Linked DNA regions of Homo sapiens: region 1 is linked to region 2. The links come from fine-mapping of genetic effects on gene expression. Tissue or cell type: whole blood. Region 2 holds a variant in brackets; the other region holds the start of a gene. All regions are shown on one strand. Distances are between the middles of the regions.

Region 1 (2,500 bases), 220 kb after region 2:
TGTCTCGAATAACTATATGTTTACCTCTTTATTCTGTTTGCTGTCAATGTTCCCTCACTAGAATAAAAGTTCTATGAGGATCTGTCTGTTTCTGTCCTACTCGTAGCTGAATCTACCAGCTTGAGAGGAGGGCTGGTGAGTTTGGCAAACATTTTCTGTAAAGGACCGTATAGTAAATATCTTAGGCTTCGCGTGGGACATGCCGTCTTTGCGCAACTACTCCACTCCGCCCCTGTAGTGTCAAAGCAGCCTTCCAAGCTGTTCAAGGAAATGGGCGTGGCTATGTTCCAATAAAGCTTTATTTACAAACCCAAGCAGGCAGAATTTGACCCGCAGGCCGCAGTTTGCCAATCTTTAAACTAGTTCAAAATACTGGGCCCAATACAATAAAAGAGAGTCTCCTATCAGGTTCACACCCCACAAAAGCTCCTTTTGATAGTTTCTTTTTTTTTCTTTCTTTCTTTTTTTTTTTTTTGAGACGGAGTCTCGCTCTGTCGCCCAGGCTGGAGTGCAGTGGTGCGATCTCGGCTCACTGCAAGCTCCGCCTCCCAGGTTCGCACCATTCTCCTGCCTCAGCCTCCCAAGTAGCTGGGACTACAGGCGCCTGCCACCACGCCCGGCTAATTTTTTGTATTTTTAGTAGAGACGGGGTTTCACCGTGTTAGTCAGGATGGTCTCGATCTCCTGACTCCGTGATCCACCCGCCTTAGCCTCCCAAAGTGCTGGGATTACAGGCGTGAGCCACCGCGCCCGGCCGATAGTTTCTTTTAACCATGTAAAAAATATATATATATTTAAATTTTCAGCTGGGGGTCCGTGAAAAACAGGCGGCGAGCGAGAGTTTGCTGACCCCTGATCAGACTGTTCCCACATGTCCCACACTCCTCCTGTGGGGTAAACGGAGTCCCTTGGGTCCCCTAAAACTGGACTTTCCCAAAACGCGCCACCAACCCACGGCGCCGCGCGCGCGACCGGTTCGCCAACCCTCTGAGCCGCGCGCGCCTCCCGCCAAGACCCGCCCCTCTTCGCGGCCATTGGCCGAGTCTCGCACTCTTTTTCAAGGGGGAACGCCTCCTCCTTCCGACAGACTCTGCAGACAGCCAATGGAACGCCGTAGGGTCTCGCGCCCCGCCCTCTTGGGGGCCCGTTGGAGGCGAGCGTGGGCGGGCCGTTAGGAAGGTGGGGCGCGGAGCCTGGTAACCGTTGCCGGTAACAACGCCCCGCCCCGTCGGGCGGGCGGGCTGCGCGAGGCTGGCTGGCGGCGGGAGCCGGAGGAGGAGCGGCCGCCGCCGCCACCGCCGCCGCCATAGAGACTGTAGCCGTGGAGACTGTTACTTACCAACGGGGACCAACACGCAGCAGCCGCTGCCGCCGCCGCGGGAGCCGCTGCCCGAACTCCCGGCCCGAACTCCAGGTGACCGATGCGACCGCCCCGGGCCCAGCCCGGCCGGGGAGTGTGGGGGGCGGCGGGGACCCCGTTCGGGGGCCGGGGGGCGGGCAGCACGTCCCCGCCGCTCACCCCAAACGTCCGGGTGGTGCGCCCGCGGGACCCGCCTCCGCCACCCCGTCCGCGCGCGCGGCGGAGTTTGGGGGGACCCTGGCGACGTCCCCACTTTCCTTATTGACTGAACGCGGGGGAGGTGCGGTGCCGTCGCCTCACTTTTTACAAAACTTCCTGAGGTTGGGGCGTCCGGGGACCCCTTTCTCACGCTTACCTTCAAACTCGCTGAGTTGGGGGCGCCCCGGGAACGTCTCTCAAACTCCTCAAACTCCCTGAATTGGGGGCGCTTGGGGACCCTCTTCTCACCTTAACCCCCTAGATCTCTGAGTTGGGGGCACCCAAGGACCCCTCTTTTACTCATACCCTCGAATTTTCTGAATTGGGGGCGCCAGGGGACCCTCTTCTCACGTTTACTCCCCAGATCTCTGAGTTGGGGGCACCCAGGGACCCTTCTTTTACTCAAACCCTCGAATTCTCTGAATTGGGGGCGCTTGGGGACCCTCTCCTCACTTTTACTCCCCAGATCTCTGAGATGGGGACACCCGGGGACCCCTCTTTTACTCATACCCTCAAACTCCCTGAATTGGGGCCACCTGGGGCCCTCTTCTTACTTTACTCCCCAAACCTCCGAAATTGGGGTGACCCCAGAGCCCTTCTGTCACTCTTAGTCGCAAACTTCTTGCATCGGGGGGACCTCGAAGACTCCCTTCTCATTTTTACCCCAAATTCCTAGATCTGACTTGTCCCGGGGACCCCCTTTTTAATGGACTCCCAGACATACTGAATTTGGGGGCACCCCTGGAACCTTTTTCTCATTCCTTAACTAAAAGCTGGTGCGTCTGCCCTGGGGAGAACCCCTCTTGCCCTTCTCACCTTTTCATCCCAAACTCCCCGAGCGAGCTTCCCCGGGAACTGTTTCTCACCTTTTTGCCCCAAATCCTCGCGTTCAGGTCGCCTCGGACACCCCCTCCCCTTCTCCCTGTGACCCCATATTCCTGA
Region 2 (2,755 bases):
GCCACCATGCCTGGCTAGGTTTTTATATTTTTAGTAGAGACGGGGTTTCACCATGTTAACCAGGATGGTCTTGATCTCCTGACCTCGTGATCCGCCTGCCTTGGCTTCCTAAAGTGCTGGGATTACAGGCATGAGCCACCGTGCCCAGCCCACAATTTATCTTTTTATGGAAACATCGTGTCAGCTCACTAACTCTTCACAACAGGCTTGAGAGGGCAGTACCATTATCATTTTCACCACCTTACAGGTGAGGAAACTGAGGCATCATAGAGGTGGTGTTCCTTGCCTGTCTCTATCACTTCCTAACTGTGTGACCTATGGTAAGTTCCTTAACTTCTCTGGGCTTTAGTTTCCTTGCTAGTGATTACTAGCAGGAGATAGGATCGCATGAGCTCAGGAGATCAAGCAAGGCTGCATTGAACTATGATTGCGCCACTGCACTCCAGCTTGGGCAACAGAGCAAGACCCTGTCTCAAAAGAGAAAAAGAGGCCAGGCACAGTGGCTCAAGCCTGTAATCCCAGCACTTTGGGAAGCCGAGACAGGTGGATCACCAGAAGTCACGAGTTCGAGACTAGCCTGGCCAACATGGTGAAACCCCGTCTCTACTAAAAATACAAAAATTAGCCGGGCATGCTGGCGGGTGCCTGTAAATCCAGCTACTTGGGAGGCTGAGGCAGGGGAATCGCTGGAACCTGGGAGGCAGAGGTTGCAGTGAGCTGAGATCATGCCATTGCACTCCAGCCTGGGTGACAAGAGTGAAACTCTATTTCAAAAAAAAAAAGAAAAGAAAAAGAAAAAAAAGAAAAAGAAAAGGGATAACAATAGTTCCTGGCGCTTAGGATTTTTTCTTTTTTTTTTAGACAGAGTCTTTCTCTGTCACCCAGGCTGGAGTGCAGTGGTGCAATTTTGGCTCGCTGCAAGCTCCGTCTCCTGGGTTCATGCCATTCTCCTGCCTCAGCCTCCTGAGTAGCTGGGACTATGGGCACCCACCATCACGCCCAGCTACCTTTTTTGTATTTTTAGTAGAAATGGGGTTTCACTGTGTTAGCCAGGATGGTCTCAATCTCCTGACCTTGTGATCCTCC[C/T]GCCTTGGTCTCCCAAAGCACTAGGATTACAGGCGTGAGCCACAGCACCCGGGGTAGGATTGTTAAGAACATTAAATGAAGGCCGGGCACAGTGGCTCACGCCTGTAATCCCAGCACTTTGGGAAGTCGAGACGGGCAGATCACAAGGTCAGGAGTTTGAGGCCAGCCTGGTCAATATGGTGAAACCCCGTCTCTACTAAAAATACAAAAATTAGCTGGGCATGGTGGCAGGTGCCTGTAGTCCCAGTTACTCAGGAGGCTGAGGCAGGAGAATTGCTTGAACTAGGGAGGTGGAGGTTGCAGTGAGCCAAGATCATGCCACTGCACTCCAGCCTGGGAGACAGAGTGAGGCTCCATCTCAAAAAAAAAAAAAAAAAAGAACGTTAAATGAGATAATACTGAAAATCAAGCACTTAAAAAAAGAAAAATTATATAATATATAATATTAATTATTATATTAAATTATATTAATCACATTAAAATAATATACTAAAATATTTAAAATATTATATAACAATAGTATTTTTAATATAATAATTTTATATTTTAATATAATATTGCTATTATATAATAAATAATTATATTATTATTGTTATGCACACTTGCTAACCGCTTGCTAAGGCCAGGCTCTTTTATTATAATAATAATAATTATTATTATTCCCACAAAGTTGACTTAAAGTTCAAGGTCAGCTTCAGTAAGAAAACCCTGTAATCCCAGCACTTTGGGACAGAGCAAGACTCCATCTCAAAAAAAAAAAGAAAACCCATTACCATCCATCAAGTGCCTACTCTAGCATAGGCAGTGGGCTAAGCCTTTGTACATGCTTTATCTCTGTCTTCCTTTGTTACAGTTGGCTCTGTCACCATCGTCTCCATATGACAGGTGAGCAAACAGAGGATCAGAGAGGTAAATTCACTTGCCCAAGGTCACACAGCTTAAAGTAGAGGAACTCAGGCCAGGTGAGGTGGCTCATGCGTATAATCCCGGCACCTTGGGAGGCCAAGGTGGGCAGATCACCTGAGGTCAGGAGTTCGAGACCAGCTTGACCAACATGGTGAAATCCTATCTCTACTAAAATACAAAAAAAATTAGCTGGGCATGGTGGCAGGTGCCAGTCATCCCAGCTACTTGGGAGGCTGAGGTAGGAGAATCGCTTGAACCCAGGAGGTGGAGGTTGCAGTGAGCTGACATTGCGCCACTACACTCCAGCCTGGGTGACAGAGCCAGACTGCATCTCAATTTTAAAAAAAAAGGCCGGGCACGGTGGCTCACGCACACCTATAATCCCAGCACTTTGGGAGGCCAAGGCAGGTGGATCACGAGGTCAGGAGATCGAGACCATCCTGGCTAACACAGTGAAACTCCATCTCTATTAAAAATACAAAAAATTAGCCGGTCGTGGCGGTGGGCGCCTGTAGTCCCAGCTACTCGGGAGGCTGAGGCGGGAGAATGGCGTGAACACGGGAGGCAGAGCTTGCAGTGAGCTGAGATCATGCCACTGCACTCCAGCCTGGGCAACAGAGCGACTCTGTCTCCAAAAAAAAAAACAATTAGCTAGGCATGGTGGCAGCATGTGCCTGTGGTCCTGGCTACTTCAGAGGCTGAGGCAGGAGTATTGCTTGAGCCTGGGAGTTTGAGGCTGCGGTGAGCTATGATGATGCCACTG

The links. PIP is the estimated chance that this variant, and not a neighbour inherited with it, causes the effect.
Region 1: RFX2 starts here. The variant in region 2 is fine-mapped to the expression of RFX2 in whole blood (INTERVAL, PIP above 0.99).

What each region holds. Positions count from the first base shown.
Region 1 is chr19:6,109,307-6,111,806 of GRCh38, reverse strand. RFX2 (regulatory factor X2) reads left to right here and starts at 1,307. Exons shown (of 18, transcript NM_000635.4): 1 at 1,307-1,414. RefSeq lists a silencer at 986-1,445 and an enhancer at 2,293-2,500.
Region 2 is chr19:6,333,934-6,336,688 of GRCh38, reverse strand. It overlaps a transcript of ACER1 not described here. Among named protein-coding and RNA genes, the nearest start is that of ACER1, 1.7 kb to the right of the region's middle. The variant C/T (reference allele first, on the strand shown) is at 1,087.